Linked DNA regions of Homo sapiens. The protein of the gene in region 7 interacts with the protein of the main gene of each other region in a biochemical or structural test. Each region holds a gene or a part of one and is shown on either strand. Other genes may lie near its edges.

The links.
Region 1: the proteins of GIPC2 (region 7) and CNKSR2 interact in a test that uses a peptide from one of them, tested with the Homo sapiens proteins (one large-scale study listed by IntAct).
Region 2: the proteins of GIPC2 (region 7) and GHRHR interact in a test that uses a peptide from one of them, tested with the Homo sapiens proteins (one large-scale study listed by IntAct).
Region 3: the proteins of GIPC2 (region 7) and ARHGAP17 interact in a test that uses a peptide from one of them, tested with the Homo sapiens proteins (one large-scale study listed by IntAct).
Region 4: the proteins of GIPC2 (region 7) and MAP7D2 interact in a test that uses a peptide from one of them, tested with the Homo sapiens proteins (one large-scale study listed by IntAct).
Region 5: the proteins of GIPC2 (region 7) and RGS12 interact in a test that uses a peptide from one of them, tested with the Homo sapiens proteins (one large-scale study listed by IntAct).
Region 6: the proteins of GIPC2 (region 7) and TANC2 interact in a test that uses a peptide from one of them, tested with the Homo sapiens proteins (one large-scale study listed by IntAct).

What each region holds. Positions count from the first base shown.
Region 1 is NC_000023.11:21,372,958-21,377,222, reverse strand, and holds the start of CNKSR2 (connector enhancer of kinase suppressor of ras 2), read right to left. Parts: upstream 2,801-4,265; 5' UTR 2,326-2,800; coding exon 2,262-2,325; intron 1-2,261. Other genes in the region: uncharacterized protein LOC105373146, read left to right, coding at 2,801-3,240.
Region 2 is NC_000007.14:30,970,453-30,973,952, reverse strand, and holds part of GHRHR (growth hormone-releasing hormone receptor precursor), read right to left. Parts: intron 2,835-3,500; coding exon 2,737-2,834; intron 1,991-2,736; coding exon 1,858-1,990; intron 1-1,857.
Region 3 is NC_000016.10:24,921,370-24,924,869, forward strand, and holds part of ARHGAP17 (rho GTPase-activating protein 17), read right to left. Parts: intron 1-3,500. UniProt on the Homo sapiens protein: Rho GTPase-activating protein involved in the maintenance of tight junction by regulating the activity of CDC42, thereby playing a central role in apical polarity of epithelial cells.
Region 4 is NC_000023.11:20,022,908-20,026,407, forward strand, and holds part of MAP7D2 (MAP7 domain-containing protein 2), read right to left. Parts: intron 3,046-3,500; coding exon 2,774-3,045; intron 2,177-2,773; coding exon 2,044-2,176; intron 1-2,043. UniProt on the Homo sapiens protein: Microtubule-stabilizing protein that plays a role in the control of cell motility and neurite outgrowth via direct binding to the microtubule. Acts as a critical cofactor for kinesin transport.
Region 5 is NC_000004.12:3,296,021-3,299,520, reverse strand, and holds part of RGS12 (regulator of G-protein signaling 12), read right to left. Parts: intron 1-3,500. UniProt on the Homo sapiens protein: Regulates G protein-coupled receptor signaling cascades. Inhibits signal transduction by increasing the GTPase activity of G protein alpha subunits, thereby driving them into their inactive GDP-bound form.
Region 6 is NC_000017.11:63,417,235-63,420,734, reverse strand, and holds part of TANC2 (protein TANC2), read right to left. Parts: intron 2,429-3,500; coding exon 2,328-2,428; intron 740-2,327; coding exon of another isoform or gene 737-739; coding exon 1-736. UniProt on the Homo sapiens protein: Scaffolding protein in the dendritic spines which acts as immobile postsynaptic posts able to recruit KIF1A-driven dense core vesicles to dendritic spines.
Region 7 is NC_000001.11:78,122,466-78,125,965, forward strand, and holds part of GIPC2 (PDZ domain-containing protein GIPC2), read left to right. Parts: intron 1-3,415; coding exon 3,416-3,497; intron 3,498-3,500.

The DNA.
Region 1 (4,265 bases), on a different chromosome or scaffold from region 7:
GAAATTTCAGCAGTAAGTAGTCTGGGATTTGAAATATACAGGTAATTATATCATTCATTCTCTTCCAGTCATATGTATACACGATACACAAACTATCTTGGCTACCCAATTGATCTTTTCAAATAGCTCTAAAATGCGTCACCAACAGGTATGAAAACAAGGTATTCGACTTACATTTAAAAAAAATTTTCAAATCACAGCTAACAATGTTAACCTAACTTCAAAGAAGCCACATTTTAGGCTGGAAAGATTTTTAAAGGACTGGTGTACTGGACAACTAATAATGTGTGTCAGAATAGGTGCATCATATATTCTACTTGCTTCAGTGGACCTAAACTATGGAGAGAGGGGAAACTGCAAGAATATAACTGGGAGGGTGGGAGGTGGAGACTGAGTATGCAGCACTCACTACAGGCATCATGGGAATTTGCGAAAGGTAGTCTATGAAGGTAATCAGACTCCCATGGAGCCAAGATAGCTTGTCTTTTAATATTTCAGCAACAGACTCAAACTAAAGTAACCTTTTAGACAAATTCAAAGAACGGGGTTTTAAGCATTGTTGCTTCCTGTATATACTCTGGCTCTTTCTTCCATCACTGAGAAACGGAGAAGGTGGAGAGTGAGGATAATTGGTGGGAATCTAAGATATTGGAATTTCAATAGCAAATACATAAAGAGAAAAAGCAGCAGCAAAGATGAGCCACTGCAGGACTTTGTCTTAGTCATCTTTATATCCCCCATGGCACCTTAGCACAATGCACTGCACACAGGGGTGCAGTCGATAAATAATGTATTAGGTTTAATTCAATTCACTCACATTTGTACTGCTTAGCAGTTACAAAGCAGTTTCCACATATTAGAAAAGAAAAGCAAAGTAAATGAGGAATAAAGGGGCAAGTAAGGGAATAAAAGGAAAGCAAAATAAAGAAAAATCCACAAGAATAAGCAAGCGGCCAAAAAGGCTGGGGAAAAGAATGAGCAAAAAAAATCAGTTTCTCCCTGTCACTCTCAATCCCTCCCAATCACCTCACCTTTCGTTCTAAATTATCTGGAGCTTAGAAAGTCTGACTGTTAAGTAAGCCCAAGAAGGGGCTCCTTCATCGTAGGAACGGGCATTTTCAGCGATAATAAGCCTTTGGTCCCTGACTGATCTACCTAGAGTTTGCTCAGGTATGACCTCGAGCAAAGCGCTAACATTTCCCAAGTGTGGCCACGCATCCTTTATTCCATTCCATCCCATCCATCCCCTCTTCAATTCCCAAAATCTTAGGGAAGAGTTGGGCCTGAGGATCCAAGGGGTTGGTGGGTGGGGGAGTCCTCTACAAGCCCCTTAACTCAGACAACAGAGGGAGGTAGTGAGACAGGAAAGCCCAGGGATCAGAAAAAAAGCTCACGTTTGCGATTAGGAGGGTGAGTGTCTATAACTGTGGTTATTATAAATCGCCAGGGACAAAAGGGGGAACCTTCAAGATGGAAGAAATGTGAAGGTACCTGAATGCGCATCACCTTACATCTGGCGTTGAGCCCTTAATAAAAAGCCGTGAGGTCCAAAACCTCGACTGGCTTGAAAGGGAGAAAGCAGAGAAGGCAAAGGATGCGAGGGGATGCGCTGGAGGCAGCCCAGAGACAGCAGCAAGGATGCTGTCCCAGGGGAAGCATGATGTCCTCACCCTCAAAGTAGCACATACCCCCACCCTGGGCATCCTCAGCCAAATCTGGGTGTGGGGGGATGCCAGGCTCCGAATGGGGGCGGCCGCGTCCTGACCCCATTATGTGGGCTAAAAGTTGCTTGGGAGAGTTGGCGCTGGGGAAGGCACCTGGCAAGGGCGGCCGCCGAGGGGGCGTCAGCTTTCCCAGGAACAAAGGGGCCAGGAAAGGGCGACCAGGGGAGCAGGTCCTGGGGGAGTCCACCCTGAGCTGGGAGATAAGGGTCGCCACGTCCTCCTGGCCCGGGGGCAGTAAGGGGAGAGGGGAGTACGCAAGATGCGCCGGTATTCTGCCTCCCGACTTCCTGCCTCCAACGGGGTGGCGCCCGCTGCCCTCTAGCTCTCTGGCCGCTCCGCGCCCCTCTAGCTGGAGACAAAAGGAGACCGGGGACCCCAGGCCCCTGCCAGTCCTGGAGGACCCCCGCCCCGACGCGTACGACGATCCGCCAGTGGAAGCCGCGGTGGCGGGCTCTGGCGCGGCGGGCGCCCCCTCCTAACCTCGCACTGGTGCCCCGCGCCCCAGTGCCGCCTCACCCTCCCCGCAGCGGGCATTACCTTTCATCCAGTCCACTACTTGACTCGGAGACCATTTGCTCACCGGTTCCATTATCAGAGCCATGGGTACGGGGTCGGTTCCGTGCAGAGCGCAGAGCTCAGACACAAAACGAACTCAGCAGCCCGAGCTGCTCTCAGGTGGGGTCCCTTGCTGGCCGCAGCCTCCCTGGGCGGGCGGCGCGGAGAAAGCGGCTTTTGTGTGTCGGGTCTCGCGGCTGTAACGTCTTTTAGCCAACCGCCGGCAGGAACGGCGACAGGGAGGTAAACGTGCAGGAGTCGTGGCTCCGCGCCGGGTCTGCTCAGTTCCCGCTAAGGCGGCGGCGGCGGCGGCTGCTGCTGCTGCTGCTGCTGCTGCTGCTGCTGCTGCCTCCGCCGCTCCGCTCCGGTCTCCGTCCCTAGGGAGCTTCAGTTCATAGCTTGAGTTGCTGAGGGGTCGCGTCGCCGAGGGAAGCAGCCTCTGCCGCACGCCCTCAGCCAACTTGCCCGCTCGCCTCACGCGCGGGAGTGAAGCCCCGAGCACGACTAGCTGCCCGGCGGAAATGACGAGGGGCCTCCTGCCACCCAAAATATCTCTCCGCAGCCCTCGGGTGCGGGGCGCGCGCGCCACGAGCCCCCCGCCCGCTCGCTGCCGCGCGGTCCCGCCCCCAGGGCCGACGGCAGGCGCGCGAGGCGCGTGCGCGTGCGCGTGCCGGCACGAGGCCGGAGCCCAGGGTCTGTCTGGCAGGCAGACAGGTGCCAGCAGCTCGCAGCCTGGCGTTCCCGCTCTGGGGGCCGTCCGGGAACAGAGGCGCGCGAAGTGCGCGTGCGCGGCGGCGGAGGCGGTGGCGGCGCGAGGCAGAGCCAGAGCCCGGGGTCGGTCAATCAGGTGCGGGCGGCTGGAGCATGGCTTTGTGAGGCCTCTGAGGGGACCCGGCGGTGGCGGCCACGGCGGGACGGGCCGCCCACCAGTTGAACTCCGACAGCTGAGGCGGCTGAGGAGGTATCCGCGGCCCCACCACCGAGGGGAGGGGGACACCACTGAGCGCGGGGCTTACAGCGAGAGCCCGGGCTTTCCTGGCTCTCGCTTTCGCCCTCGCCCTCCCCGCTGCTGAGTGGGCTCCGGAGGTGATTCCCGAGACCCGCGTACGCCTGCAGAGACGGAGGTGTGGACTGCCGTGGACGAGAACGGGGCTCCGCCTGCCAGAAGCGCAGCGATGATGAGGCAGGAGGGCTAGTGCTGTCGGATCTTCCCCGGGTGATGAGCGGGTCCTGGGAAGTCAGGCGTTGAGGCTGTCACCTGCCAGCTGCTGGTTGTGGTGATCCTGAGACAGGTTCTGCCCCAAGTACCATTTTAAAGGGCTCTGTTTCAGGTTTTGGGCCAACTCCTCTAAAGTACCTATTTTAGAGAAGTCATTTTGTGTTTGATATTCTTATATATTAATAAGAACCGAAGGGCAACAATGGGATTTAAAATGAGTGACAAATTGTAGACATGATTTTTCAAAACTCATTTTCTTCAAAAACCATACACAGGCTACTATGCAACGGTTAGTAAAATACAGTTTGCCTAATGAGGCTTCACTTTAAAAGACAAATATTCCTAGAGTGTAGATGCTAACTCTCTGCCACCGTTATAGGCGTTTTCTCTATCATTCTTAAATAGGTCCATTAAGTAAAAGAAACTTTTTAAATAAGCATTCCAGTAATGTCAATAGGTTTTGCCAGTTCCTATGGTAACCCATTTTCTCTAGTCCAATTTTATAAGATGCAGAAATGTCACGTTCTTTAACCGGCATGAGTTGACGACACCCTTCCCCCCCACACACACACACACAAACAGCTGAAACCACAGTAGTTAAAATATTGTGACGTTTTTAACTGCTGATTTCAATGCTAGTGATAGCGAACAAGTAAAATTTAAGATGGCCTGTATTTAGGCTTCTTTATTTTTCTAACTATCCAAACTTAGAAGTATATGCAGAATTTTGGAAAGACATTTAGAAAATTATCTAGACAAGCCTACAT
Region 2 (3,500 bases), on a different chromosome or scaffold from region 7:
GGACACCCACTGGAGCCCCATCCCAGTCTCCTCTACCCTACTCAGATACAGAACCTCCAGGCCCCTCCATGTTAGGCTGGGACCTGCAGCTCCTTGGGCCACCCAAGAGGGGATGTGGTGATATACAGTGAGGGTTAAGAGCACAGATTTGGTATCTAGACAGCCTGGCTTCTAATTTACTATCTATTTCCTGTGCAAATCTCCTCACACCTTAGCTTTTCATCTGTAAAAGGAAAAACCTCCAATACCTAGATCAAGTCCTCATCATAAGGATTAAATGGAAACTGCCTAAGACTTGCTTCTATTTTCACTTACCCCCATCCTTCCTGAGCTGAAGTCAATCCCTAGAGCTGTGACTTATTCAGCCACAGCTCTGTCTTGCAAAAAACACACACAGGCACCCGTGCATTCACTCACTCACTGCATGACTTGATCACCTGCCGGCAGGGGAGCAGGACCACCTCTGAGTTCAGTTGGCCCAGGTTTGATCCCAGCCCCACCCGTGTGCCACTGGGTGACCTTGCCAACTGTCTCTCCTCTACAAAATGGGATTAAAGTGATGCTTTCTTCTTCAAGCTGTTTTAAAAATTCAAGAGATAATGCCAGCTGACTCTTGAACAACAAAGGTGTGAACTGCTGAAGTCCATTTACACATAGATTTTCTTCCATCTCTGTCACCCCTAAGACAGCAAGATCAACTTCTCTTCCTCCTCCCCCTCAGGCTACTCAACATAAAGACGATGAGGATGAAGACCTTCATGATGATCCACTTCCATTTAAAAACAGCCAATTTTTATTTTCTCTATGATTTTCTTAAAATTTTTTCTCTAGCTTACTTTATTGTAAGAATACAGTATATAACACGTGTAACAGACAAATATGTGTTAATCGGTCATTTATGTTATTGGTAAGGCTTCAGGTCAACAGTAGGCAATCAATAGTTAAGTTTGGGGGACACAAAAGTTATACTTGAATTCTCAGCTGAAAGGGGGGTCAACACCACTAAACCCACATTGTTCAAGGGACAACTACATATGTAAAGCACTTAGTGCAATGCCTGGCACAAAATAAGTGCTCAGTATGAAGTATGATTAATTCTTTCATCAGTTAATTGAGGTCATGTGTTAGTTTGCTCCCTGATTTCGCTGTTCATTTCCAGCACACTTGCAGAGGATCTAGCAGGTGCTGGGTCTCCACATTCTGCCCAACTTCCCTTTAATTTCAATTGCCTCTTATTGTCTCCACCCCATCTCTCCCATGGTGCCTTCCCAGTTTCTTGGACATGGCCCAGGTCCTCCTGTCTTTGAGAGTTTGTTCACCCTGGTCTCTCCTCTTGAAATGTTCTCCTTCCCCATCTCCCTATTGTTGCTGCCAATACAGCTCCAGGGTCCTCTCCTCCCTGAAGCCCCCTCTCGTTCTCTCCTAGCTCTCAGCTTCCTCCACTTGGGAGTCCCCTAATCTGTGTGCATTCTGTCCCATGGGCTCTTCCTGAAGGAGGGACCCAGCTCCTCCCAGCCCCTTGCGTACACACCCCCAGCACAGACCTATGAGTGCTCAGGGAGGGGTGAAAGGAAAGGAAAAGGCTGTGCATAGTGAAACGTGGTCTAGGTTGGACTACAGAACGCGGAGTAGAGCATGCAATATGGGAAATGACATGGATCGACACCACAGTCCAGGAAAGGCGTGAGGACTTAGGGGGTGACATGGGAAAGGAGCATTTTCCTGTTCTGTAATTGGCCATGCGGGAGCCCCAGGGTCAGCCCACAGGGCAGGGAAGCCTGACGCAGGCACATCTGGGTCTGTAATCCTACCTCCTCTCTCCCCCACCTGCCCAGCCCCTTCACCCATGGCCATTACAGTGGAGAAGCTGCAGTGGTCAGTGTCGTCGCTGTGGAAAAGGGCAGCATCCTTCAGGAACACAGCTCCCGCCTTGAGGATAAAAGTGGTGAACAGCTGGGTGTGGACGTAGTTCCGGGGGCAGTGGAGCCTCCTGGGGGTAATGGGAGAAATGAGGAACAAGAAGCAAGCAGGGAGAGGGGATTCTGGTGTGCTGCAACTGGGCTGAACAGGGCAGGAGGTGAATCGAATCAAACTGGATGCAATCAAACTGAATTGAATTGAGCTGAACTTGAGGCTTCAGTTTAACCCTTGCAGGACAGCTGAGCAACCATTCCTGTGCTCAGGGTAAGTGTGGAAAGAGAGGAATATCTGGTCCCTGCCTCGAGGGTGCTCACAGTCTCAGGGAACAGAGGCAGAAACGGCAGGTACTGCCCATGGGAGCCCCCTGGATGATCAGAGACACTCATCCCCATGAGACCAAGAACAGCACAGGCCAGATGCAGTGCTCAGACTTCGAAGGCTGGAGGAGGGGGTGGGGTCTTAAAGGGGACAGTGGTCAGAGAGTTATAACAGTCAAGAGGGGCTCTGGGCAGGAGGCAGAGGACTGTCAGATGCAGATAGGAGCTGGGCTTTCTCAGTTATAAATACACTGAGAACAATGAGGAATTCCAAGCAAATAGAATGAGCACCACGTGAGCAAAGGGGCAGAGGTAGGAATGAGTTCTGGTGTTTGAAGAGATGGGTCTACATGGTGGGGAAAAGGGAAGGGAAAGTTAGACATGGGTATGGCGCCTAGATCTGGGAAGTTCATGGCTATGTAGGCAAGGAAGCAGACTTGACCCTCTGGGAAATAAGGAGCCAAGGAAGGTTCTTGAGCTGGTGATGAGGATGACAAACCTGAGAGCAACCAGGATGGTGATGGCCACGAAGAGGGCTACAATAGAGATGCTATGGCCCACGGTGTAGATAATCTTCACTGTGGAGAAGTAAGATTCCTGGGAAGGGCAGAGACAGAAGAAAGTCTCAGCTTCTGGGCCTTTGGAGGAAAGAGAGGCTTGACAATCAAGCAGGTGAAGCCTTTGCCATTCCACCCCAACACTCCCCATCTGGAGGCAGAGGTGTCCGCGAGTACCATGGAAAGCTCCCCCTGTGCACTGGAGCTTTAGTTTACAGCCTGCCTTCCACCTGACCTGCGGGTGAGGGAGGGGTAGTGGCGAGGAGTGGAGATGCTTAACATTCATGATGCTCTGAGGGTGAGGAGAGGCAGCCGCAGAAACTACATGTCCCTGGGGAATGACAAAAGCCCAAGAGGAAATCAGCTTGTTTATTGACATCCAGCTTGCTCACCAGCTTGGGAACACAATGTATCCAAATAAAGGAGATAGCCAGGGACACCTGGGGACAGCCACAGGCAGGCAGGCAAAAGGTTTCCGTGGCCAAGTGTTTGGATCAGTCAGAGTCCAGCCTGGCCCTGAAGATAGAGGGTGCAGGCAAGGGAAGGGAGCAGGGGCCTGGGCACTGGCCCCAATCCCAGCTCTCCTGTGGGGTCCAGGCAATCACTTCCTGTCCCTGACTCAGTCTTTCCATCTGAAAAATGGTTACAGTCATGCTTTACCTCTCAGAGATCAAGGGGACAGAGAAATGGGATGATGGGTTTGGGA
Region 3 (3,500 bases), on a different chromosome or scaffold from region 7:
CAGCAGTGAGGGAGTGGGAGGAGGAGGTGGTTTGTGGGGGCGTTTCACAGTTAGGCTTGAGAGCTGCTTTCCCCTACTTGCTGTGGTGCAAAATGACATCCTGTCTGTCCTTGACGGGAGCTAGTTTTGACTATATTTCTGTTCGACCTGCTCCCGTCTACGCAGGCACAGCTTGAAAACGCTGGTGCACTTTGGGGAAGCTCACTGCTTGGAGACTTGTTCCAGCTCCTACCCCTTCCACCTTCCTGTCCCTACAGTTCTGAGCTGTGAGATCTATTTACTCCCTGGGACACCCTTTTTCTCACAGTTACTCCTGGGTTGTCCCTCAAGGTTTCCTATGCACCACAACTCAGAGAAATTTCTAGATTTATGGAGGTGCCAAAGTGTCAAAGAGTTCAGGTGCTGAATGTCATTTCAGACAATTCAGGTCTTGTGATAACTATAAAACCAATGACACTGTGCAGAACTGCACCAGCCTATGGTGCAGCCAAAGGTGGTCTGTATGCACAGAATAGGGGCTGTCTTGGATTTGTCCTAAGCAGAACAGAAGTCAACGAAGGCAGGGACTGTGTCTGTCTTGTTCACAGTGTATCCTCAGTACCTAAAACAGTGACCGGCAAATAGCAGATGTTCAAGAAATTTTGTAGCTGCACACTTGGATGGTTGGATGGATGCATGAAGAGTCATCTAGAGCAACCATCTTTCCAATCCTCCATTCTTACATCCTCAGGCAAAGAAGTAGCTGTGACTTGAAGACGACGTATAAGAAAATCACTGCAAATGCAATCCTTTCCCCATTATCTTGGCCCCCAAAAACAGAAGGGGCTACCAGCCCGTGTCTCTTCTCAGCCCAGAGTTTACCAGAAACTATGGAACCGACATGACTTGGCGGGGAATGCATGATGCAAAGGCACTGTGTATACGGATGAGATTTCTACTTGTTAATATCTGTATTCACATGCAAGCTAACGCCTATCAGCCACCAAGCCCCTCCACAGCTGCTCTCTTTTTCTTATACATCACATATACATAATTTTTAGATTTGTGCCTCTCTGAATTTTTCTATTTATGATCCACACACATTATTAATTCAAGGGGAAAAAATGTGTTTTGGGGCATAAAGGAAATCCCTTACTCTGCCGCCCACCTGCCCCATCTGGTTTCCCCAGCCCCTCTCTATTCCTACATGAATCAGTCCCTGAAAGAAACAATGACTTTGTTTACACACAAAAAGTAGAAAGAATTACGGCAACCTGTACAGAACCAGTTTTCAGAAAGAGACTTCATCACAGTAGCTAACATTAAAAAAAAAAATTTTTTTTTTGAGATGGGGTCTTGCTCTTTTGCCCAGGCTGGAGTGCAGTCGTGCAATCTCAGCTCACTGCAGCCTCCACCTCCTGGGCTCAACTGATCCTCCCACCTCAGCCTCCCGAGTAGCTAGGACTACAAGCATACGCCACCATGCCTGGCTAATTTTTTTTATTTTTGGTAGAGACAAGGTTTCACCATGTTGACTGGGCTGGTCTTGAACTCCTGGCCTCAAGCAATCCTCCCACCTCGGCTCCCCAAAGTGCTGGGATTACCAGCATGAGCCACCACACCCAGCCTCAGTAGCTGACATTACTATAGAGCACTTACTTACACCAGAGACTGTACTATACACCCACACTTTATTACATCGTCTCACTGAACCCCCACTAACTAATCCTAAGGCAGCAGAAATAAGAAAGGGAGACTCAGAGGCTCTATTCCTTGCCCAAGGTGACACAGCCAGTGTGGACCAAAGAGGATCAAAGCCAGATTGGTTGCACTCTGGCTCTTCGCATTACATTTTCCCTCCTCCCCAGAGGAGTCTGTAAATCCCTGGGTGAGGGCCTTCAAAGACATTATCCAAGATCATTGTTTCAGTCTTACAAACACTCTGGTTTGTTGTAAAAAGGAGAAAATGGTTATTTCAGAAAGACACCTGTAAGAACCTGGTTTGTCTGAAACACCTCTAAATCTTTCTGGCTATGAACTCGTATATTAACTGCACTCCAAGAAGGGCTGGTTTCTGAGCATATGCTTGGAGCTAAGTTCATACAAAAGATATTGTATTTAAAAAAACAAAATAGGCTGGGCGTGGTGGGATGATGGTGTGAGCCCAGAAGTTCGAGACCAGCCCAGGCAACATGAGACTCCGTCTCTATAAGAAAAACACAAAAATTAGCCGGGTGTGGTGGTGCATGCCTCTAGTTCCACCTTCCAGCTACTTGGGAGATTCGCTTGAGCCCAGGAGGTCAAGGCTGCAGTGGACTGGAATCACACCGCTGCACTCTAGCCTGGGCAACAGAGCAAGACCCTGTCTCTCTTTTTTTTAAAAAAAAAAAAAAAAAAAAAGAGAGAAACAGAGGATGACCTCCAGTAACCAGCCTCAGCCCAAAGGCAGAACTTGATACAGTTCATCTCAGATTTGGGGCTCTGACAAATGTAACCCAGGTTCCTTCCTGCACTGAGTATCTCATCCAGGAAACAGAAGTGGGTATTTAAGAGCTAGAAGTGGAATGTTATCACTGAGGGTAAGGTTCTAGAAGATTTACTTATTACTTCAACAATTTTGAATATGTGCTTTCTCGGTTGTGAACTCACCCTTCAAGAAGTCCAAGGTGATTCTGATAGCCACTTTGACAAGTAACAGATCCAAATATGCCCTTGAAAGTAAGTGGTGCAGGCACAACTGCAGGGCGAATAAACTCCCTCCCCCTCTCCACCACCCATCCCTCTTCTCAGACCTAGAGTCTCAGGGAATGCCTTCCTTCACCAGTGAACGGTTTGAGTCTTAAACACTCTGGTTGATTGTTGTAAAAAAGAGATAAAGGTTATTTTAGAAAGACACTTGTAAGAACCTGGTTTTCTTTAAACACCTCTAAACGTCTCTGGCTATGAATTTATATATTATTTGCATTCCAAGAAGGGCTGGTCTTTGAGCATACTGCTTGGAGCTAAGTTTATATGACAAGTATTATATTTCAAAATTAAAAAAAAGCAAAAAATCAGACAAAAAAGAAACCTTTTATTGGAGGTCTCTTTTCTGTTTTTTTTTTTTTTAAATAAAATATCTACTGTATGAACTTAGTTCCAAGCAATATCCTCAAAGACCAGCCCTTGGAAGGCAGAGAATATATAAATTCACAACCAAAGAGGTTTAGGGTGCTTTTAGAAAGCAGGTTCTGGCTGGGTGTGGTAGCTCATGCCTGTAATCCCAGCACTTTGGGAGGCCGAGGCAGGCAGATCACCTGAGGTCAGGAGTTCAAGACCAGCCTGGCCAACATGGTGAAACCCCGTCTATACTAAAAATACAAAAATTAGCCGAGCACGGTAGTGAGTGCCTGTAATCCCAGCTACTCAGGAGGCTGAGGCAGGAGAATCGCTTGAACCTGGGAGGTGGAGGTCACAGTGAGCTGAGATCGCACCACTGCATTCCATTCTGAGCAACGGGGTAAGACTCAGTCTCAAAAATA
Region 4 (3,500 bases), on a different chromosome or scaffold from region 7:
ATCCACATCTACTCAGATGCAGCTCTTGAGCACGGAAATGTGGCGGGTGTGGCTGGGGAAATGAATTTTACTGAATGTATATTTTGGTGGCCACATGTGCCTAGAGGGTCTGATAGTGGACAATGCAGCCCTAGACAGAGCTTGGGCCACAGGCATAGTTTTAGGAGTCATCAGTACACATGTGTTATTAGTGCCTCCCTTGTTCCAGAAAGTATGGAAGGTTTAGAAAGCAAGCTGCAGTTAGCTTCAGAAACGGACAATAAAACAAGACAAAGGGAAAATGAAGGTGGGAAGTGAGATGAGAGCAGAGCTGGTTTAGCACAACAAAGGCTCAACAGAAAGCTGTTGTGTAAAATGTGGGCCCTAAATCTTTTGACGCCATAGGAAACTGGCAGGATGGCAGGGACACTGGCAGAACAGGCGGGAGCAGTGCTGTTCGGGAGAGCTTGTTGGGAGAGAAGCTGGTCCAGGACTAAGGGCTGAAAGCCCAGGCAACATTTAAGGGGATGAGGGGCAGACAGAGGAGGCTATGAAGGAGAGGCCAGAGAAGCAAGGGCAAGCTTGACAAGGCCAAAGCCAACCAAGAAACTGATTAGTAGTTAGGCAACGAGGAGGAGTGGTAGGTGTGAGGTTTGAAGACTGAATGTGAGTTGAGAAAATAAAGACAGAATGTTCAATCAAGTCTTTCAGGAGCTGGGCTGTGAAGAAAATGGGAGATACAGACGGTGGTAGCTGGAAAGTAAAGAACATCACCTTCTTTAGCACACGACTACGATCATGTTACTCACCAGCTCAGAGCCTACATGGTATCTCCATGGCCTGCAATTATCAAGGCCTGTCATCTGAGGTCCTGTGATTCATCTTTATCTCTTGTGACCTCCCTTCACACACCTTAAGGCCCACCCAAACCAGCCCAAACATGCCACTCGACAAAACAAACAAACAAACAAACAAAACACGTCTGTATTGACCAAAATGTTGGAAACAGGAAAACAATCAAAGAAGTCCCAAATTTCAAGAAGGGACTGTCGAGACCTACCCCACTGTCCCTTTTAAAAAATAGATCAGCAAACCTGTAATCAGAGACCACAAAGACTTACCAAGGTCACTAAAGGATCAATAATATTCTATTATTTATTACTCTAAATTCGGTGCTGGCCTTGAAGTGCTACAGCATTGCCTGCTTCCTGTCATGATAATTCTCTAAACAGTATTGGATTGTACTCTGTGATGAGCCTAACGGCTTCCTTTATCAATTTAATGATAAAATCGACCTTGTCCTTCAACATGCTTTCCTCTCTAAATAAAAAGATCAGAAAAGGAAGGTCTGTCTGTATTGTGACAAAGTACCCTGGTACTAACATCACAGTGGTTCTCAAACCCTGGCAAGCTACTAAAACAGAACAGGGCTGAGTCCATGTGTTTTTACTGCATTCCCCGGATGATTCTGATGCTCTTCAAGGTGTAGGGACCACTGCAATGATGTCTTTTGTCTTGCTCCCAGATGGGACTCCCCATACCTCACTGTTCTTAGACTATGCGGTTGCCCCTACACACAACCCTATGCCTAGGGGACACTGCTCAACCCTCCCCTCTGTCTCTCACTTTGGGGTGTGAGTTAGGATAATTTGACGGAGGAAACAATTTGGAAATCAGAATCAAGACCAAAACCAGAATCTTGAACCTCTTGTTTTCCCAGGGAGAATCTCATTTTTTAAACAAAGTTCAGACTTCCCTGATAGCTCTAGGAGGCCTGCCTGGCCCCAAAGTCCAAGAGGAGAATGGGAAGATGCCTGTGCCATTTAGATCCAAGAGCTATGAGTTTCCAGGTCCTCCGAAAAGAACAAAGTTCCATTGTTATTAATAATTACATCTAATATAAGACTCAGTCTCCTGAACACCTTCCATGTAGTTCAGACATTCTAGGTTCCCATACTTCTGTTCAAGTTTTATCAATACCAACGCTGTAAAAAGAAAGGCAAGCTGCTCTTTCCAACACAACAGTTACATGAGATCACACCGAAATTCTGAGCACTAGCATACCTATCTTGTTCTTCCTTCTCCAGTCGTTCTTGCTCCTCCTGTTCCTTCTGCAGCCGGGCCTGTCTTCTCTTTTCAGCCAAGATCTTCGCAGCCTCTCCTGCATCAGTGGTGCCTGCTGTGGGCTTCCCCAAGGCTGCACCAGAGGAGAGGCATCAAGAGGAAAAGATCAAGGGAAACGAATATAATGATTCCACTCACACAGCAGCTGCCAGTTGGAAGTGAAAAAAAATCCAACCCAGTGTGGTGATGGGAAATGCCGTCCAGACTAGCACAATCGACCACCAAGCAAGAGAAGCTGTCATGGGCTGGCTGGAACCCTGGACGCATTTTACAGTGGAAGACAATAGAAACATGAGGAGGAAAGACAAGGTCACTAGCAAGTGCCACAGCAGCCACCATCTGGGTGAACTCACTGCATCATAGAAGCCTGAAAGTCTAAAGGAAGATCTTCTTTTGCGTGAGGTGCAGATGCAGGCCTGTTTTACTCAGCATCCCCGTGAGCTTCCACAGCCATGAGTGGAGTCAGCCTCTAGATTTCCTCCAGGGGACCCTCAGAAGACTGAAGGAAAGAACTCAGGAGCAACGTGCAAACCCAAGAAAGCTGCACGAGGGGATGCACTTGTCCCCAGAGAAAAATCCCTTTCCCTCCCCAAAACATGAGAGAATGGCACGTGGATTGGGTCTGAGGAGAACCGTCTTGGGAAAGCCAAGGCACGGTGGCAGCATCTACCTGCGCTGTTTTCGGCTTTCCCTCCTGCGGCAGCAGCATGCTTCTCGCTGGCATGCTTGTCCACTACATGCTTCTCTAGGGCTTCCTCTCCTTGCGGGCCAGCAGCCTGCTGAGCCAAGGTACCTTCCCTTTCCTTGTTGCTCTTCTCTTTCTCCGCTTTCCTCTTGGGCATGTCTTGGCCAGAAAGGGCAGGTAAGCGGTACTTCACAGGAGACCCTGGGTAGGGAGGTTTCGTTGTCTTTGGAGACTGTGGATAAGCTTTAGTAGCTGTCCTGGAAAACAAAAAATATGCCAGAGGATGATTACTGGGCCTGAACACAGAGCTCTCTGTTCCTAAGACACCTAGTTCCAACAAGCTGAACAATTTCATCCTTCCAGAGGAAGGAAAATAGGGCTTAGCACACACTCAAAAGTCACTAAAGTGCTCTCAGCCCAACAGGAATATACGGTCTCTCTAAGACGGCCCTGGTGGAAAGGGAAACATTTTAAGAAGCCCAGCTGATGATGCCATGTCCTAATCTCACTTAGGTTTCATGACAATGTAAAGATGGAGTATTAGGCACTTCCCTACTCCCTCTTTTTAGGTGAACATCAGGGTTGAATCTGGTTTCAGCATATGGCAATGAACATGCTGGCTCCTTTTAAAAAAATTGTGACAAAACATATATAACACCAAATTTACCATTTTAACCATTTTTAAGTGTACAGTTCAGTGGCGTTCAACTCT
Region 5 (3,500 bases), on a different chromosome or scaffold from region 7:
AACCAGACACAAGACACAAAAACCAACTCTGGGAGGTCCTGGAGAGCTATGAAAAGCAGGCAGAAAGTGGAGGGGAGTTGTCCCCTGAAAGGAGAGAGCTGCACCAACTAAAACAAGTGTTTCTAAAAATGGCTAGAGCACAGGTAGAAGTTGTGATCCTCCCAGCTTGAAGAGTCCAAGATAGGGCTTGGGGAGGGCTGGGTGGCTGAACAGTGAGGGGCATATCTCAGAAAGGAGGTCACTGGGGAAGAGGCAGTCGTGAGATCTGTTAGTAAATTCTGCCTAGGTCCTGGCCAGTGGTGAGCCATCCATGCACAGAGAGACCCCAGAGTCCAGCAGAAGGAGGCAGCCGGAAGGTCAACAGCACCAAGCAGAGACTGCAGCAGAGATTTTCATTTGAGTCCAGACAAATTAACTTCCAGAACAAAAATCAACACTCTTCAGAAAAAAGAAGTCACTACAGTTACCATCTACAATGTCCAGTACACCATCAAATAACACTAGATGTTCAAAGAAACAGGAAGATGTGGCCCATAGTTGGAAGAAGCCAATAGAAATTGATCCTGAGGTAATGCAGGTGTTGAAATTAGCAGAAAAGAACATTAAAGCCGCTAGTATGTGTTCAAAGATTTAATGACAGTATGATCACAATAAACAAATGACAGAGCAGAGAAATGGCAACCATAAAAAATAAGTGAAAATTCTAGAAATAAAAACTACTGTAACTGAAATTTTAAAATGCACGAAACTTAATAGCAGTTTGAAGATGGTGAAAAATTACATATCCAAGAAGTTCAACAAACCCTGAGCAGGACAAATACAAAGCAAACCCTCCTAAGAACATCACAATCAAACTGCTGGAAGCCAAAAATCCCAGGAGGAGCTTGAAAGCACCTCATCATATAACATAAAGGAGCAACGCAGCTACCAGAGTGACTGACTTCTTAGAAACAGCAAAGGGGCAACATGACGAGACTATGAAAAAATAAAATGAAAAGTAAAAATTGCCAGTTGTGGGGGTGCATGCTTGTGTTCCCAGCTACTCAGGAGGTTGAGGCAGGGGGATCGCTTGAGCCCAGGAGTTTGGGGCTGCAGCGAGCTATGACTGCACCACTGCACTCCAGCCTGGGCAAAAGAGTGAGACTCCGTCTCTTAAAAAAAAAATTGAACAAACATCAAAGAGATCAACAAGATGAGAAAAAAGAGAATTAGAGGATCAACCTAGGAGGTCCAACCTCCAAATAAAAGTTCCAGAAAGAGAAAACAGCAAAACTGAAAGAAAATTATCTTTGAAATTTAAAAACTTCTATCCTCAGACTGAAAGGGCCCACGGAGTGCCCAGCACAATAAACGGAAGCAGATGCCATTATCGGGCTTCTCAGAACACTGAGGGAAAAGAGCCGCTTCTATGAGCTTGAGGCAGGAGAGATCACACACAGAAGAACTGAAATCAGAATGGCGTCAGACCTCAACAGCACAGAAACCAAATGCAATGAAGCAACATTTTCAAAATTCCGAAAAAATCATTGTCTAAAATTTTATACCCAGCTAAGTTAAAAGGTAATTGGAGAGTAAAATAAAGATGTTTTCTAAATCAAGGACCAAAAAAAATACCTATGTGATGTTTCTTAGGTATCAAAAGAGTAGGACTTCAGCAAAACGAGGAGTGAGCCAAGCAGAGAGAGAAGAGCAGGACCCAGTGCACAGGGAGCCCCACAGATGGAGGACAGCAGCGGGAAATGCAGGTGACAGCGGCGCAGCAGGTCTCCTGGAGACCAGGGCAAACGAGAGCAGGGAGAAGGCTCCAATCCCAAAGGGGTGGGGATGGGGCTAGTGTCCTGGATGCAATGAAAAACAAACCATTTTGATAGGTGGGTGACTAGAAGATGCTAATCCACAGGGCTGTGCGAGAGGACCTGTGCTCAGGGCACTCCTTGGCGCAGTAATGAGCAATGCTTACAGTCACACAAGAGCAAGGACTGTCGATTTCACCAAAAATGCAGTGATTATGATGGCACATAGAGGGACAGGGAGGCTGGTGGGACAGAGGAGAGCTAAACCTCCCCACGGCCTTTGGGAGAAATAAAAAAAGAATGTCTTAAGCTTTAAAGGAGCAGCTTCAACAGCAGTAAATGCCTGAGAAAACAGACCACTTAGGATCCCGCCTCTGGGGGCTGCGGCCAGGCAGGGCAGGAGAATGCCTACAACTGGACGCTTCAATCCACAGACTCAGCCCTTTTTCAGGCATGCTGGAAGGACAACTAAGATCACTGCTAAGGGACACAAAGATGTAGGAAAAGATATGTGAGTAGAGTGTGTATGCGTATCGGGTATCACCATGATTACAGAGTTGGGGACAGCAAGTGCATGGAAAAGCAGAAAGAAAAGAAAAACAGAAAGAACAAACTAGATGTTTCTTTTCTCTTTCACTGAAGTCCAGACCTTAAAAGACACAGAAGAAGGGAACTTCTAACACAAGAGTTCCTTGCCCGGAGCCCGAGGCAAGAGGCTCCTTCATGGAAGAATCTAGGCAACTTCTGCAACGGTGGCCCCCAAAACCACAGGTAAAACTGCATGAGCACTGTGTGGAGTATCCAGTTTGGAACTGGTAACGACCCCACCTCCTAAAAAGGCACAGCATGAGTGACCTCCCACAACCTCTCATGACTGGGGCTTGCATCCTGAGCAAGGCTTGTCTTCCTTCCCAGGACACCTGTTTCCAGGATGGCTCCCGCCTCTCCCCAAGGGCAGGGAAGTGAAACCACAGGGACCTTCCCTGGACAAACCCTGCCCATCCCAGAGAAGAGGCATGAGACGGGTGCTCCTCGCACACAATGGGAAAAGTGAAGTCATTTCGAAGACAAGTGAGGAGCCTGCTGTAGGCTGAATAGCGATCCCCAAAGATATCCAGGCCCTAATCCCTGGGACTGTGAAAGCCATACGGCAATACGGATCTGCAGATGTGAGTAAACTAAGGCTCCCAGGACAAGGAGATTATCCTGGAAATTTGAACATGGCAGAAGAAGACAGAAGCTAGGCGCGGTGGCTCGTGCCTGCAATCCCAACCCTTTGAGAAGCTAAGGCAGGAGGATCACTTGAGGCTAAGAGTTCAAGATCAGCCTGGGCAACATAGTGAGACCCCATCTCTACCAAAAAAAAAAAACAGAAAAAATTAGCTGGGCATGGTGGCACATGCCTGGGGTCCCAGCTACTCAAGAGGCTGAGGCAGGAGGATGGCTTGAGCCAGGAGTTCAAGGCTGTAGTGAGCTATGATTGTGCCACCGCACTCCACCTGGGCAACAAAGTGAGACCCTGTCTCTAAAAGGAGAAAATAAAGAGGAGGAGAAAGACAGCGATGTGACAATGGAGGCAGGGCAGGAGCCGGGAGCCAAGGAATGAGGCCAGCCCCCAGAAGCTGACCAGGGGGGCAGTTTTCCTCCAGCCCCCAGAAGCTGACCAGGGGGGTGAACGGCTCTCCTCCAGCCTCCAGAAGCTGACTG
Region 6 (3,500 bases), on a different chromosome or scaffold from region 7:
CATTTTGGATAATGGAGATTTGGGTCTGCCAGGAAGCTGACTGACGCTTGTTTCCTGCTGATAGCGCACGGGTGAACCAGACTGGGATCTATAGACACTCATACTTTCAGCTGGAGGGCTGGCCCGATACTGAGGGCCTCTCCGGAGAGGGGAAGGGGGAGGGCTTGGGTATTCTTTGCCCTGTCCTCCCACAGGAGGGGGGCTGAAACGGTAAGATCCTCCCTGATGAGCCGGGGAAGTGTGTGGTGGGCTAGGCCTGTAATGTGAGTTCTGATGAGTTGGAGAAAGGGCAGGTGAGGTGGACTGATAGGTCTGTCTAGTGGGAGAGCCTACAGAACTACTGGACCGGAAGTCAAAAACCTGATGAGAGCCAAGAGGTGAGCTGGAGATGTAGGCTGAGTCCCGATGCGGGGGAGAGGAGGGTGGGCTCTGGATGACCGGGAGCCCCTGGCTGGGCCGGGCCTCTGTCTGGAGGCCAATGGAAACATTTTCAACATCCTGTTCCAGGTACTCCTCCTCGAATATATCCTGTACAGAGTATATGTCTTCATGCTGTGGCTCAGGTTCTGCTTCTTCCGGCAACTGCTGCTGAGGCTGCGGTGGCGGCGGTGGCTGCTGTGGCTGCTGCATCTGTCTACACTCTTCTTCCACTCTCAGCAGAAGTCTCTGGATCTCACGGTTGTTGGGACACAGCTTGATGGCCTCGTTCAGGTCCTCTAAGGCTGCTGCGAACTGTCTGCTTGACAAAATGTGAACACAGGAACTGGAGTTATTCTGAATCCAGAGAAATCACCAAGAGCTGAGAACATGGTCACTATCTCAGAGAGCTGTGGTGGCGTCTGTGGGAGTCTGGGGTATTTCGGTTTAGTTGGATTTATAGGGAAGGAAACAGGAAGACTCATTCTGGAAGAGTCCGAATGATTCCCTAACCCATTCGGCCTCCATCTTCCTTCTGGCCTCTCTGGGAATAGTGGAGAAATGCCCCATTTTGTCAGTCCAGCCAGGCCCTTCGGGAAGTTGTTTTGGTGCCCAAACACACACCAGGCAGTATGAGAGTTGGGTGGGGTTGTCATTTACAGGGTCACTGTCAAGTAGCTTAGGAACAAAAAAAACTACATATTTAAAAATCTTGCTGATCCAGCAGAAATTTTTCTTTATATTCTCAATATTTTAGCTCCAAATTTCAGGCCTGTTCTACTCTAGGCAAGAACCCTGTCCTCTGCCCTTTCTAACCCTCATCTCTCAGAATTGCTGTGTCTCCATTTGCTCTATCAAAGTGGGGCAGGCATTAGGCTTGCTGACTAGGTCACTCGGGGCTGGAGCTGAGCTGACTCCAAGGAGACTCTAATTTACAAATGAAGAAATGAACTGTCAGAGACATTCCCATCTTCTCTACTAATATCACCTGACAGGGGCAACTGACCTTGTGAAAAAGGAACTACCCAGAGGGAAGGAGAATTTCAGTCAGATTTCTGTGAGGACTTCGTTGCCCCAGCTAGGTAAGAGTGCGATCACTGCCACCACCATCACTAGCCTCAAGCTGGGTGTGATTTTCGGGACCATGTGCCCCTGGCCATAGCAGTGAACCTGAAGCAGTTCTTTCCCATGCAGCTGGGGAGGAGGAGGGCAGGAGGCATAAGAGACAGTGACAAGTTACACAAAGATCACTGATGGCAGGTTCTAGGTTATTCTGGGAGCTTTTCTGCCCAGTGGCCAAACTAAAGCAGATGGGCACAAGGAATGTGGAATGGTGTTCTCTTAGAGGGTCCTCTCCATCCTGGCAGCAAGGACCTCTTGACTCTGTGTGTGTGTGGTGGGTGATGGTTTAGGTGGAAGGGGGTCTGATGCCACCAGACTTGAGGAGAGCCCCAGAGGGAAGACTAACTAATCCGGGATTCCTCAAACGCCTATGGGAGAAGGAAGAGGAACCTGTGATGTTAAGTGAACCATCCTACTTTCCCTCTAAAGCGGGGGTGGGGTGCTCTGCTTAAGTGATTTCTTTAAGTCGCCGTTGTCTCTTTGTGCTAGCTGCTCTGGGGGTTGAAAAATGCCTGAGATACGGCAGAGGCTTCTTGGAAGAAGCTGCCATTCTCCAGTGAAAAAGTGTTTTTCTCCCGAAGTGAAACATTCGTGGCCTCCACAGCCCAGCAGATTTGCTGATCTTGAGCTGAGGGCTGTGCTATGGGAGCCATCCCCAAAGCTTGGCCCTGACAGTTCTCAAGGACAGAGATGTATTTGGGTACATATGCCCCAGGGTGGCCGACGCTGCCTTGGCCAAATTTTCAGAAAAGAGACCTCTTGCTTTCACCCTCTCTCTCTCTCCTCACCTGCTGCTGCGTTTTGCCCTTGCTCTCGCATAGTAAGCTTCATAAGATTTCGGTTTCAGCTCCAGGGCCTTAGTAGCAAATTCCTCCGCCATTCCAAAATCCTGTCATTACAATAGGTGTGCAAATGAGTCATTGATGAGATATAAAAAATAGACAACTTGGGAATAAAACAAATTATTTGTACATTTTTTGACATTCATGGATGGAACGCCTGGGACGCTAGACGTGCCTGACATGGCTCAAGCCGCGTGGCCTGTGGACTGAAAGTTCCTTCTGCCTTTGTCCTGTGTAGCGCTGCGACTGCTCACTGGACTTTATCTGCCCAGAATATTAAAATAGTTTTAATTTTCCCTCTTTTTGCCTTTCTAATAAAGTTCTCAGCCCGGAAGCCAAACACCAACCCTTTCCAGTGAAGCTCCTGAAGTTATCCATGCATGTAGGAGGCAAACGCACACATGTCCACATTTCACGTGGACCCTGGTCTGAGCCCCACACCTTCCTGCTACATGCACTACACTGTGGCTTTCTAAGGGACAGGTGAGAAGGTGTCCTGTAAAGTCCGGGAGGATGACGTCTGTAAAGGAAACTGCACTGACTACAGAGACTAGAGGGAGAGGGGGTGTCAGACAGACCTGGGTTCAATTCTCTGACCAGCTTCATAACCCCCAAGTGTATAGTGTATTTTCTCATCCATACCTACCCCGGGGGTAGGATCAAGTGTGATACAGTATTTAAAAGCCCTGCACAGTTCCCGGCACATAGTAGGTGCTCATTAATTATCGTTTTCTTTCTATTTCACAGAGGCTTCTCTGATCTGTTCCTTTTTTTAACTGGTTCCTTACTTAGGAAACACTTAAAATTAAAAATAAAACAAAACAAGAGAAGACCCCAGCTGTGACTGAGGTCTGTGCTCTCCCTAGAGGAACACGCTCACAGGCATGTCATTCCTGAGAACCCCTGGAAACAGAGACTGGGGGGTGGGGTGGGGAACAACGCCGACTAGGCAGCCTATGGTTTTCAGTATTCCCTTAAATACTAAGCTAAAAGAGAAGGCTTTCCCCTTCTTTTAGTGTCAAAGCCACAGTATAGCATGGTAGCCTCTGGTTATGGTCATGAGTCCTAAGGCAGAAAACAAGGCCTTGGGCAGAACAAAGGCCCTGGGGCATAGGTAAA
Region 7 (3,500 bases):
GGGAGACCTCAAGAAACTTACAGTCATGGCAGAAGGTGAAGGGGAAGCAAGGCACGTCTTACATGGTGGCAGGAGAGAGTGAGTGTGCAGGAGAAACTGTCGCTTTTGAAACCATGAGATCTTGTGAGAACTCCCTCACTATCACGAGAACAGCCTGGGGGAAACCACCTCATGATGCAATCACCTCCCACCAGGTCCCTCCCTTGACACGTGGGGATTGCAATTCAAGATGGGATTTGGGTGGGCACACAGAGCCAAACCATATCAATTCTCCACTTGCATAACCTCATACTTTATTCAATATGTGCTTGCTGAGACAGGCACAGTCTAAGTGCTGGTGATACAAAGAAGAATAAAAACCCTGTTTCTCTTCTAAAAGGAGAGAAGCATGAAAAGAAGCTATTACAACCCAGTGGGATAGGGTTAATGGAAGCAGGTGCAGGATACACAGTGTCACAAAGAAGGGGCTGATCAGCCATTGACAGGGATTGGGGAAAGAAAGGAGGTCAGAAGGCTGGGTGCAGTAGCTCACGCCTGTAATCCCAGAACTTTGGAAGACTGATGTGGGTGGGTTACCTGAGGTCAGGAGTTCGAGACTAGCCTGGCCAATGTGATGAAACCCCATCTCTACTAAAAACATAAAAATTAGCTGGGCATGGTGCTGGGCACCTGTAATCCCAGCTACTTGGGAGGCTGAGGCAGGAGAATCACTTGAGCCCAGGAGGCGGAGGTTGCAGCGAGCCGAGATTATGCCATTGCACTCCAGCCTGGGTGACAGAGTGAGACTCCATCTCAAAAAAAAAAAAAAAAAAAGGGTCAGGAAGTGTTTCTCTCCGGAAGAAATTAGTGAGTGAGTTCAAAATGGGGAAGAAGAGTGTTCTAGGCATGGAACAATAATGGGTTTTGGGGACCTGTAAGCTGTTCATGAGATTGGAGTGTGGGGTGCTGGAAGTACTGGTTAGGTAGGGGTGATGAGGCTAGAGGCATAGGCTGGGGTTAGGATATGAAGGGCCTTGTGGATAATGAGGGAGCCATTTAAGAATTATGAGGGGAGTAACACAATCAGTTTTGTGTTTTAGAAAAATCCCTTGGTTCCAGGGTATGGGTTGTTGAGCAGCTTGGATTTGAGAGGGTGAAGACCAAAGGCAGGGAGACAAAATAGGAAACCTCTGCAAATCAGAAAAGATGAGGACTAAACACTGGCAAACAGAATGTGGATGGAGAAGAGGTGATAGATCCAGATCTGTTCCGTAGCAAATAGGAAATATTAGAATGGTAAAATATTGGTGGCCATTTGGGTATGAGGAGTACTGACACTTGTCACCGTAACTTAAAACGTGCCTGGATAGATATAAAGGTTAATACCTGTTAATTTGCATAGCCTGTTGCTTTATACAGACAATTCAAGATACATTGTAATGAAGGCAAGAGCAATATATTGTCTGTTATTGTTTTTAAGGTTTAGTTCTTGTAAATAAAAATGTGAGAAAGTTGTATTAATATCTTCAAGGAAATAGATTTTTATTTGCTATAAAATGCATGATTTTAATAAAATTTGAGACTACAAAACAACATATATTTATAACAGTATTGAAAGTAACATGAAATTCTTATAATCTAAATAATGAATTCTACATTTGCATGTATAGTTGAGTAGTTAACATCTTTGGGCAATTCCATTTTCAGCTATGATGCCATTTAAAGCCAAGTATTGAAATAAACTGAGCAGAATTTACCAAATATTAAACCAAAAATTTAAAATAATATTTTTACTGAAATGTTTAGTAATCATTTCGGGAAGAACAAAAATGTTTTGGTACCATTAATACATAACACAAAAATGATTTAAAAAGTATTATTTTATCATCTCATTCTTATAAAATTTCCTTTTTTGGTGTATTTTTATAATCTATACAATATATTAATATGGTAATACATGTGTAATTGATAAGCAATACATACAATAAAGTTAAAAATACACAATAAGGGTATTTGTTCAGAAAAGTTTTACTATTGGGATGAGCCATCAAACGTTTGGAGACCCTGGCCTGCACCATAAAGACCAAAGTCCTTTTCATGGTACACAGGACTCCTCAAGATCTAGTCATATTTGTCACTGTGTTCTCCAGCTACATGGGACTTCTGGCATCCCTCTAACATGACTCTGTGACCTTACTTAGACTTTGCCTATCTATTGCATCCTACTTGAAGTGTCCTCTCCTGCTTATCTCCTCTTCATCATTGAAAACACAGTTCTTGGCTGGGCGTGATGGCTCATGCCTGTAATTCCAGCACTTTAGGAGGCTGAGGTGGGCGGATCACTTGAGTCCAGGAATTGGAGACCAGCCTGGCCAACATGGTGAAACCCCGTCTCTACTAAAAAAATACAAAAAATTAGCTGGGCATGGTGGCGCACGCCTGTAATCCCAGCTACTTGGGAGGCAGAGGTTGCAGTGAGCTGAGATCACACCACTGCACTTCAGCCTGGGCAACAGAATGAGACTCTGTCTCAAACAAAACAAAACAAAACAAAGCAAGACAAAAAAACCCCGCCACAGTTCTTAAGACATCCTTCTTTTTCTCTGAGACAGGGTCTTGTCCTGTTGCCGGGTTGGAGGGCAGTGGCAGAATTATGGCTCACTACAGCCTCGTCATCCTGGGCTCAAGTGATCTTCCCACTTTAGCCTCCTGAGTGGCTGGGACTAAAGGTGCATACCACCACACCTGGTTACTTTTAAATTAAATTAATTAATTAGTAGAGATAGAATCTTGCCATGTTGCCCAGGCTTGTCTAGACCTCTCAGGTTCAAGTGATCCTCCTGTTTCAGCCTCCCAAGTGTCTGGGATTACAAGCATGTGCTACCACACCCAGCTAATTATTTTAATTAATTAATTAATTTTTTTTGTAGAGATGGAGTCTCACCATGTTGCCTGGGCTGGTCTTGAACTCCTAGGCTGAAGCAACTCTCCCACCGTGGCCTTCCAAAGTGCTGGGATTACAGGTGTGAGCCACTGTGCTCAGCCAAGTCACCTTCTTTCTAAAGTCTTCCATGACTGTTAGAGATATAAATTTGCTTCCTCCCCTGTGATGCTTCTGTGCCTTTTATATCCTTTAAAAACTGTTACATGTTATTTATTTTCACATCTGTTTCCTCTTCTAGATTGTTAGCTACTTGGGGATTGTGTTCCTGGCTTTTCTTTTTTGAATCCGTAACACTTAGTGCTGACACTAGAAATAAGTATTTACTGTATTGATTTGTATTTAGTTACAGAGCACATTCTAGATCTATTTCCATTAAAATTAGCTGAAATACACAATTATGAACCGGCTCCACATCAGGCTTTCTCTTGTGTATGCCCTGACAATCAAGAGATTTTGTTGTATAATATCTTATTTCTCTCTTTTTTGATAAAGCCTTCTGAAACCAAAGCAAAGGCAATTGAAAAGATTGATGATGTTCTTGAGTTGTACATGGGAATTCGAGATATTGATTTAGGTA